3 linked regions of the Homo sapiens genome follow. The protein of the gene in region 1 purifies or fractionates together with the protein of each later gene. This does not show direct contact. Each region holds a gene or a part of one and is shown in the gene's direction. Other genes may lie near its edges.

Region 1 (3,728 bases):
CACACCTGGCTAATTTTTGTATTTTTAGTAGAGATTTTTGGCCAGGGTGGTCTCGAACTCCTGACCTAAAGTGATCCACCCACCTCAGTTTCCCAAAGTGCTGGGATTACAGGTGTGAGCCACTGTGCCTGGCCTCCAACCTTTTCTTATGAAAATTTTCAAACATTCAGGAAAGTTGAAAGGAGAGTACACTGGATAACTATCTGTATACTTTCCATCTAAATGCAACAGTTGTTAACGTTTTTCACATTGCTTTATTTGTGTGTGTATTATATATAGAGAGAGTAAGTTGCAGGTGTCTGACCTTTTACCATCGAGTACTTCGGTAGGATCTCCTGAGAATAAGGGCATTGTCAGCCAAGTGCGGTGGCTCACACCTGTAATCCCAACACTTTGGGAGGCCAAGGCAGGTGGATCACCTGAAGTCAGGAGTTTGAGACCAGCCTGACCAACATGGTGGAACCCCCTCTCTACTAAAAATACAAAACAACAACAAAAAAATGCCAGGCGTGGTGGTGAGCACCTATAATCTCAGCTACTTGGGAGGCTGAGGTGGGAGAATAGTTTGAACCTAGGAGACAGAGTTGCAGTGAGCCAAGATCACTCCATTGCACTCCAGCCTGGGTGACAGAGCAAGACTCCATCTCAAAAAAAGAAGAAGGGCATTCTCCTACTTACCATTAGCACATCTGGGAAGATTAACCATGAGTCCATAATATCACCTGATACCCAACCCATGAACAATTGAGATGTCCTCAGCTGGTGCCAGTGGTATCTTTGGATATTCTCTTTCTTTGGTCTCTTGATTTGGACTAGGCCTCCCCTCCCCAACCCCATCCCCTCAACAGCTGACTTTTTGAAAAGGCTTGGCCAGCCTGGACGCGGTGGCTCATGCCTGTAATCCCAGCACTTTGGGAGGCTGAGGCGGGCGGATCACGAGGCCAGGAGTTCAAGACCATACTGGCCAACATGGTGAAACTCTGTCTCTACTAAAAATACAAAAAATTAGCTGGGCATGGTGGTGGGTGCCTGTACTCCCAGCTACTCAGGAGGCTAAGGCAGGAGAATCACTTCAACCTGGGAGGTGGAGGTTGCAGTGAGCTGAGGTCGCACCACTGCACTCCAGCCTGGGTGACAGAGCAAGACTCTGTCTCAGGGGGGCAAATAAAAGAAAGAAAAGTCTTGGGCTTGGCCAGTTGTTTGTTTTTGACATATTTAAGATTTTTTTGTTTTTTGTTTTTTGTTTTTTTTTTTTGAGACGGAGTCTCGCACTGTCACCCAGGCTGGAGTGCAGTGGCACGATCTCCACTTACTGCAAACTCCGCCTCCTGGGTTCATGCCATTCTCCTGCCTCAGTCTCCCGAGTAGCTGGGACTACAGGTGCCCGCCACCACGCCTGGCTAATTTTTTGTATTTTTGGTAGAGACAGGGTTTCACCGTGTTAGCTAGGATGGTCTTGGTCTCCTGACCTCGTGATCTGCCCACCTCAGCCTCCCAAAGTGCTGGGATTACAGGCGTGAGCCACCGCACCCAGCCTGTTTGTTTTTTGAAATGGAGTTTCACTCTTGTTGCCCAGGCTGGAGTGCAATGGTGCAATCTCGGCTCACCACAACCTCCGCCTCCTGGGTTCAGGTGCTTCTCCTGCCTCAGCCTCCTGAGTAGCTGGGATTACAGGTATACGCCACCACGCCTGGCTAATTTTTTTGTATTTTTAATAGAGACAGGGTTTCTCCATGTTGGTCAGGCTGGTCTTGAACTCCCGACCTCAGGTAATCTGCCCGTCTTGACCTCCCAAAGTGCTGGGATTACAGGTATGAACCACCGTGCCCGGCCCTAAAGTTTTTGTTTTAAATTGAAATGTAACTTACGTGCAATTACGTGTACAATTAGAGAATGTTTTTCTTGTGTGTGTACCTGTGTAAGTGCCAGTCAGTCAAGATACAGAACATGTCCACATCCAGAAAGTTCCTGCATGCCCCTTCCTAGTTAGTACTTCTCACTGCTCTGACTTTTAGCACCATAAGTTAGGTTTTAGGACCATTTGTTGTATTGCAGAATGTCCCATATTCTAGGTTTGTCTCCTTGTTTCCTCATGGTGGCGTTTGACTTGTTCCTCTGTGCCAGTGTATGTCCCATATGCTAGATAGGTCCAGGCTTAAAAGTAAACATTTACATTTCTGGCAAGAACACATTGTCCTCCTTCACATTGTCCATTTTTTTTTTTTTTTTTGAGACAGTGTCTTGTTGTCACCCAGGTTGGAGTGCAGTGATGTGATCATAGCTCACTGCAGCCTCAGCCTCGTGGTCTCAAGTGATCCTCTTGCCCCAGCCTCGCAAGTCGCTGGGACCACAGGTGCGTGCCTTCACACTCGGCTAACATTTACATTTTTTGTAGAGACGGGATCTCCCTATGTTGCCCAGGCTGGTCTTGAACTCTTAGGCTCAAGTGATCCTCCTGCCTTGGCCTCCAAAAGTGCTGGGAATACAGGCATGAGCTATTGTGGCCCGCCCATGTTGTCTCTTTTTTTGTTTTTGTTTTTTTCTCCTGAGACAGGGTCTTGCTCTATCACCCAGGCTGGAATGCAATGGTGTAATCACGGCTCACTGCAGCCTCGACCACTGGGGCTCAGCTCCCACCTCAGCCTCCCAAAGTGCTGGGATTTCAGGCATGAGCCACTGACCCCAGCATTGTCTTTCTTGATGGGCTCCTCCTCTTCTCCTCCAGATGAGCTCCCCACACAAGAACTCTGTGCCATCATCCCTAAATGAGTATGAGGTGCTGCCCAATGGCTGTGAGGCCCACTGGGAGGTGGTGGAGCGGATCCTGTTCATCTACGCCAAGCTCAACCCTGGCATCGCTTATGTGCAAGGCATGAATGAAATCGTGGGGCCCCTCTACTACACCTTTGCCACCGACCCCAATAGTGAGTGGAAAGGTAAGAAGGCTCTTGGTGCCCACATCCCTCGTTGCTGGCCCGTGTCAGGCTGTGCACCTCACTTTCCCTCTCGGGCCTCTGTTCTCCCTCTGCCAGATGAGGAGTTGGCCTGGATCATCTCTGAGATCCTTTGCAGCTGTGATCTTCTAGAATGTTGGTTGTTTACTGATCTCTTGATATTTGTAATTTAATTCTGATAGAGAAGGTGGATATGTAGGAAGCCGAATTATAAGATTTAAATAATGATTTTTAAATTGTCATCAGGAGAGTGTGTAATAAACTGCTAAGTGAATGTACAGTATTGCCAGATGTGAGAAGAAAGAGGCGATGTCTTTAGCCTGGGGGTGGAGAGGGGTCAAGGACAGAGGAAGGACTGAGCCAGACCATGAGGATGGGGCAACTCGGCGGGGCTCAGAGCAGGGCAGATGTCTGGTAGGTGAGAGGTGGGGTGGGCCTGGAGTGCGCCACTTCTGCCCCCATCCTGCTCTCTCCCAGAGCACGCCGAGGCAGACACCTTTTTCTGCTTCACCAACCTCATGGCCGAGATCCGGGACAACTTTATCAAGAGCCTGGATGACTCGCAGTGTGGCATCACCTACAAGATGGAGAAGGTTTACTCCACCTTGAAAGATAAGGATGTGGAGCTCTACCTGAAACTGGTGAGGACCCCAGGAACAGACGGGTGGAAAGGGACAGGAGGCAGAGAGTTGCTGTGCCATCCCAGCCCAGGGCGAGGTCTCGCTTGAGTCTGGGGGTCAGAAGTAGCTGCTGCTGCTGCTGCCCGGGACGCTG
Region 2 (3,728 bases), on another chromosome or scaffold:
GCCAGGATGGTCTCGATCTCCTGACCTCATGATCCACCCGCCTCAGCCTCCCAAAGTGCTGGGATTACAGGCGTGAGCCACCGCGCCCGGCCTACCATGTCATTTTCTATTCTAGAGCCTTCTGATTACCTCTATGTCACCTTTTCATTTTGTTTTAGATGACATCAGAGATTGTTCTGTTTCTCACTCCTCTATCAGGTTCCTTTACTTCTTTCAGGAAAATGCTAAGAGACCTCAGGGATCATTTGGTCTAGGAGTTGGCAAATTACAGCCCAACAGCCAGTTTGGCTGTCACCTATTTTTGTGCTACAGAGAGCTAAGGATGGTTTTTACAATTATAAGTGTTGTAAAAACAACCCCTTATTAAAACAACTGTGGGCCAAGTGCAGTGGGGCACCTGTAACCCCAGCACTCTGGGAGGCTGAGGCGGGCACATCACCTGCAGTCAGGAGTGAAGACCAGCCTGACCAACATGGTGAAACCCCGTCTGTACTAAAAATGCGAAAAGTTAGCCAGGCGTGGTGGCACGTGCCTGTAATCCCAGCTACTTGGGAGGCTGAGGCAGGAGAGTCGCTTGAACCTGGGAGGTGGAAGTTGCAGTAAGCCAAGCTTGTGCATTGCACTCTAGCCTGGGCGATGAGTGAAGCTCCATCTCAAAAAAACAAAAAACAAAACTGTGGTATTATTCATACAGCAGAATATTACTCAGCAAAGAAAAATATACAACAGAAACTGTGTATGGTCTCCAAAGGCTGAAATATTTACTTGCTGGTTCTTTACTGAAAAAGTTTGCTTTCTGATCCAGTTATAACTCCTAAATATTACAGATGAGGCAATATTTAAGGAAGTTAAATGTAGCAAAGTTATATAAAAGTAGATTGACTATCCCCTATTCCAGAATTCTTTTCCTCTTTTTTTTTTTTTTTTTTTTGAGATGGAGTTTCACTCTTGTTGCCCAGGCTGGAGTGCAGTGGCGCAATCTCGGCTCACTGCAACCTTTGCTTCCTGGGTTCAAGCGATTCTCCTGCCTCAGCCTCCTGAGTAGCTGGGATGACAGGCATGCACCACCACGCCTGGCTAATTTTGTAGTTTTAGTAGAGACGGGGCTTCTCCATGTTGGTCAGGCTGGTCTTGAACTCCTGACCTCAGGTGATCACCCACCTCGGCCTCCCAAAGTTCTGGGATTACGGGTGTGAGCCACCGCACCCAGCTAGTTTTTTTGTTTGTTTGTTTGTTTTTAAGAGACAGACTCTCACTGTGTTGCCCAGGGTAGAGTGCAGTGGCACAATCTCAGCTAATGGCAACCTCCACGTCCCAGGTTCAAGCAATCCTCCCATGTAAGCCTCTCAGGTAGCTGAGACTACAGGAGTGTGCTACCACAGCCAGTTCATTTCTATATTTTTTTGTAGAGACAGGGTTTCAGCATGTTGCCCAGGCTGGTCTTGAACTCCTGAGCTCAAGTGATCCACCCACCTCGGCCTCCCAAAGTGCTAGGATTATAGGTGTTAGCCACCGTGTGTGGCCTCCTCTCTTTTTTTTTTTTTTTAGAGACAAGATCTCTCTTGTTCACACAAAAACCTAAATTACAATTATAAAGTGTTGTAAAAAACAACCCCTTATTAAAACAACTGTGGGCCGAGTGCAGTGGCCCACTGCAGGAGTGGGCCTGGCTGGAGTGCAGTGGCGTGATGGTAGCTCACTGTAGCCTCAAACTGCTGGGCTCAAGTGATCCTTCTACTTCAGCCTCCCAAATAGATATGACTATAGTCATGTGTCATTAAGCCCAGCTAATTTTATTTTTAGTAGAGACGGGGTCTTACTATGTTGCCTAGGCTGTTCTCAAACCCCTGGGCTCCAGTGATCCTCCTGCTTCAGCCTCCCAAAGCGTTGAGACTACAGGTATGAGCCTCTGTGCCTGGCTCTTCCCACTCTCTTTTATATACTCCTTATATTTAAGGTAGGTACTCTACCTAGTTACCTAGTTTGGGGCTTTTAGTTTAGAAAGACATTAGAGATTGTGGAGTATTAATAAGTGAACTGTGTACATTATTTAAAGATTAAATAATAGGACTTAAAGATACTGAGGAATGAGGTGGTAAGAATAACTTACTGAGATTAATTTACCTGGAGGAGTTGTGTAGAAATTGGCGGCATATTTTGTGTGAAGGTGCTGAAACCTATATCTGTCTGATCACAAAGGTTTTTGTGTTAACTGTGAAGCAGTTTCACTAATAACCAGTCTAAGGGAGGATTCCCACTGGTTGGAGGATAGTAAAGGTCATCGTATGCCAGGCACCAGGAATAGAAGTGTGAATACTTTCACCCACCGCATCCTGGGCTGCAGTTTTACCAGTTGCCTGAATCTGGTGAGGAAGAGCACACACGCAACACGTTACATGAAACGGGTTTATTACTTACAGATAGGCAGCAAGGGACAACAGAAGCCGAGGATCCATTGTGAGCCAGTCCCCCAAGGCTCAAGAAAGCTGCCAGGGGCAAATGGAGTGTTAACTGCATATGCCTCACTTGCAGTACAGCTGAGGGATCCCAAAAAACAGCCTGCCCTGGTTTTTGTACCCTGGGGTCACTTGACTCTGGGCAAAGTTTGAAGGACATCCTGTTTCTAAGAGCTGGAATAGAGCCCCCAGGCTATGCTGGCCAGTTGCTCCCTATCTCAGGATGTTATATTCCCAGAATATTCTATAGTTATTTTGAGAACTACAGGCAAGAAGAAAAGAGGGGGGGAGAAACTGTATCCATCAGTCCAAGGCCATTGGGAAACCATCCAGCACTAATCTTTAATATAACATTTGTCAGCTGGGAGAGTTAAGTTTGTGTTAATGCTGATCAAAATGAAAAGTAGAACAGATGAGGAGCAGCAGAATATAGTGGAAAGACTACAGACGAGTAATATTTGGGGTCAAATTCAAGTCTGCCACTTATAAGCTCTATGACCTTGGGCAAGTTATCTTTATCAGCCTCAGTGTCTTGTATAAAATAAAAACAGAAATATCCATTCCATTGTAAAGGAAGAAATAAGTCAGGATATGAAAGATGGGCAGTTTGTCTCTGTCATGTGGGCTTTGTAAGTAATAAGTACTATTATTGTTTCAATTATTCTGTAATGAAAACACTTTCCCCTTTTGGGGTTCTTCCTTTCTAGACTCCCATAGTGACCCTCTCTGGCCACATGGAGGCAGTTTCCTCAGTTCTGTGGTCAGATGCTGAAGAAATCTGCAGTGCATCTTGGGACCATACAATTAGAGTGTGGGATGTTGAGTCTGGCAGTCTTAAGTCAACTTTGGTAAGACAAATTCAGTGTTCTTTTAAGTGATAAACTTCTAGAGATGGTTTTTAGTCTACCATGGTTAATGTTCTTTCCTTTTCTTTTTCAGACAGGAAATAAAGTGTTTAATTGTATTTCCTATTCTCCACTTTGTAAACGTTTAGCATCTGGAAGCACAGATAGGCATATCAGACTGTGGGATCCCCGAACTAAAGGTGAGTCATGTAAACCACTGGGGGAATATATGTGTGAATAACATCTATTTCTCATCTCTCTGGAGATGTACAAAAAAAGGAATTTCTGGCCAGGCGTGGTGGCTCATGCCTGTAATCCCAGCACTTTGAGAGGCCGAGGCGGGCAGATCATGAGGTCAGGAGTTGGAGATCAGCCTGGCCAACATAGAGAAACCCTGCCTTTACTAAAAATACAAAAATCAGCTGGG
Region 3 (3,500 bases), on another chromosome or scaffold:
TGCAGTGAGCTGAGATTGCGCCATTGCACTCCAGCCTGGGCGACAGGGCGAGATCCCGTCACACACACAAAAAAATTTTAATTTTGTCTATATTTTTAGTTGTTTAATTCTAGAGGCTAAATCTGGTCCCTGTTAATCCATCTGGACTGCAGCTGGAAGTTCCCCTGAAGTTACCTTGCACAGAGAGAAGTTATATAACTTTACATATTTAGGGGTAGCAGTTGGTAGATTACCACTTACCTCTTTAGCAATGCCAGGTAGGTTATATTAGATTATTCACAGCTTTTTTCTTTTTCTTTTCTTTTTTTTTTTTTTTTTTTGAGACAGAGTCTTGCTCTGTCCCCCAGGCTGGAGTGCAGTGTCGTGATCTCGGCTTACTGCAACCTTTGCCTCCCAGGTTCAAATGATTCTCCTGCCTCAGCCTCCCCTGTAGCTGGGACTACAGGTGCCCGCCACCATGCCCATCTAATTTTTGTGTTTTTAGTAGAGACGGGGTTTCACCATATTGGCCAGGCTGGTCTCGAACTCCTGACCTTGTGATCCACCCGCCTTGGCCTCCCAAAGTGTTGGGATTACAGGCGTTGAGCCATGGCGCCTGGCCCACAGCTTTTTCTAGTTGTGTTTAGGTGCTTAGGCTCAGGATATGGGGTTTAGTAAATAAGCCTTCCATATGCATATTGTCAGACCCAAATCAGTCCACAGCTATCTTACTGGAAGTGGGGTCACAAGGCAATTTCTAGAAAGCAAGTTCTGATAAAGGTAAATTGATTCACTGGAAGATCTTAAGATATATAAAATATCTCCAATACCATGTGTTTAATTTTAGTGAATAAGAATAATATAGTTTCTTTTTAAAGCTAGCACAAATCAAGTAATAAAACCCAGCAAAGCACACACAAAAATATAGGCTAGCCAGGTGTGGTGGCACATGCCTGTAATCTCAGCTATATGGGAGGCTAAGGCAGGAAGATTGCTAGAGCCCAAGAGTTCAAGACCAGCCTAGTCAACATAGCGAGATTCCGTCTCAAAAAAAAAAAAAAAAAAGAGCAGAAACCAAACAAACAAATATATAGGCCAATATATAGTAAAAACATGATTACCAAGTCCAAAATGAAATATTAGCAAGTTAATTCTAGTACTGTACTATCATGTTAACTTTTTTTGGTGACATAGCCTGGTACTAGTGATAAGTTTATTTCATCGATTCTCTCATTTGTTTCTGACAGCACAGAGAGATGTATATCTTCTTTCTTTCTTTATTTTTTTTGAGACAGAGTCTCACTCTGTCGCCCAGGCTGGAGATCAGTGTGACACGATCTTGGCTCACTGCAACGTCCACCTCCCAGGTTCAAGCAATTCTCCTGCCTCAGCCTCCCAAGTAGCTGGGATTAAAGATGCCCACCACCATGCCCGGCCAATTTTTTTGTATTTTTATAGAGACGGGGTTTCACTATATTGGCCAGTCTGGTTTTGAACTCCTGATCTCAAGTGATCTGCCTGCCTTGCCCTCCCAAAGTGCTAGGTTATAATAGAAGGGGAAGTTGAGTTTAGAATGGTCAAATAACTTAACTGTTTACTCTACCTATGTAACTTTAGCTTAGTCAACATTTTTTGGACTAGGTAGTGTGACTTCAGAATTGAACTCTTTTTCGAGACAGAGTTGCTCTTTTGCCCAGGCTGGAGTGAGGTGGCGTGATCTCAGCTCACTGCAACCTCCACCCCCTGGGTTCAAGTAATTCTCGTGCCTCAGCCTCCCAAGTAGCTGGGATTACAGGCACCCACCACCACGCCCCGCTAATTTTTTTGTATTTTTAGTAGAGACAGGGTTTTGCCATGTTGGCCAGGCTGGTCTTGAACTCCTGACCTCAGGTGATCCACCTGCCTCGGCCTCACAAAGTGCTAGGATTACAAGTGTGAGCCACCGCGCCTGGCCCAGAATCGAACTTTTAATCACAATATTATAATTTCCTAGAAACAATCTAGTTTTATCCTGGAGTTGTAAATATGATTTAACATAGTGAAATATTTTAGTATAATATCAGTAAGTCAATAATTTGATAATTTGCTATTGATATAGCTGTAAATATAGAAAATCCAGGAGAATGATCTGAAATTTCTTAAAAATATTTTAAAAATCCAGTGACATTATTAAATATATGGAAATCAGTTACTTCTTAAAAGGAGAAAAGTAGTTTTACTCTCCCAAACAAAACAAACAGCTAGGAAGAGTGCAGGGGTATTTTTTCTTTTTTTCTTTTTGTTTTTTTAAACTTAATGACCAGTGTGATAGTAGCAAGGGTATTCTTAATAAGAAAATACAAGACTTAATAAAAAAAATTAAAGGTCTTCAGTATTATAAGAAGACTGGAATAAATGGAATGAAATGCCTGTTTCTGAAAGTTTGTAAGGATGTTAGTTCTTCCTAAATTTGTGGACTTAAAATAATGCCAATCAGTCTGATGATTTTGGAACTTTATTTCCTGATCTGAAAGTTCACATGGTAGAATGTACTAATTTTTACAATAAAAAGGAGCACCTAATGTTAGGCATTATTTTAGATACCAGGGATACAGCGATGACCAAAAAGCAAAACTTTTTGCTCTCTTGGAGCTAGCATAGTTGGAGGAGGCAGGCAATAAGCTTGCTAAAAAAGTGTGTTAATTTATGTTAAAATAAAGATAAATTAGACTTATGAATCTCGTTTCTCACTGTTGCATGTGGTTGGCATTTAGTACCAGACTCTACCTGTGGTAAATCAGGCAAGTTGTTTTTCAACTTTTCACTTTCCTCACATTTAAAATAAGGGATCAGATTAATAGTATCCTAACTTATATATATTGTGTGAGCTTTACTTCACTTTCAAGTTTACCTGGTGTTGAATATGTGGAAGAGATAAACATGGTGCTATTTGGCACCAGTCCTCTAAGGGGCTTCACCAAATGCAGGCCCCTGCAGAGCAGGGTCCAGACACAGTGCACTAGATGAGCCCACTGTGGGCCTGTGCTGTGCCACAGACTGACGTGTCCCACGTCTCCCTGAGTAGTGTTGAAATGCAGAAGTAGGGAGATGAGCAATGGTGTGAGCAGTTGTTTTGAAGGATGTGGAAATAAGTTTGAAAACTGGATATAGTCTACAGATTTGGCACGTGGGTCAGTTGCAGATTGACCCCTCAGAAATATAAATCAAAACTTGGTCTCAATACAGAAATCAGAAAATGTAGAGAGTGTGATTTGGTGTGTGGGCCAGAGGTGGAGGGAGCTATGAGGAGAAAATGCAATTACTTTTTCCATTTTCACTTTGGATCTTGTATTGAGATGACCACTTGATGGTCAAGTGGATATGTCTGACAGACAAATAAGAAAGTCATATTGGAGTTAGTAATGTTAGTGATGGCTAAAGTGATGAGAATAGTCTTCTGAGGTTTGAAGCAGAAAGAAAATCAGTTTAGGAACTGGACTTTGGAGTTAAGGTGAGACAAAGCTGGAATAATCAGTGGGAAA

What was found.
Region 2: the proteins of TBC1D13 (region 1) and WDR12 fractionate together in Homo sapiens (co-fractionation; one large-scale study listed by BioGRID). This does not show direct contact.
Region 3: the proteins of TBC1D13 (region 1) and ARMC1 fractionate together in Homo sapiens (co-fractionation; one large-scale study listed by BioGRID). This does not show direct contact.

Annotation. Positions count from the first base shown.
Region 1 is NC_000009.12:128,800,525-128,804,252, forward strand, and holds part of TBC1D13 (TBC1 domain family member 13), read left to right. Parts: intron 1-2,725; coding exon 2,726-2,936; intron 2,937-3,431; coding exon 3,432-3,595; intron 3,596-3,728. UniProt on the Homo sapiens protein: Acts as a GTPase-activating protein for RAB35. Together with RAB35 may be involved in regulation of insulin-induced glucose transporter SLC2A4/GLUT4 translocation to the plasma membrane in adipocytes.
Region 2 is NC_000002.12:202,883,971-202,887,698, reverse strand, and holds part of WDR12 (ribosome biogenesis protein WDR12), read left to right. Parts: intron 1-3,163; coding exon 3,164-3,304; intron 3,305-3,395; coding exon 3,396-3,501; intron 3,502-3,728.
Region 3 is NC_000008.11:65,606,678-65,610,177, reverse strand, and holds part of ARMC1 (armadillo repeat-containing protein 1), read left to right. Parts: intron 1-3,500.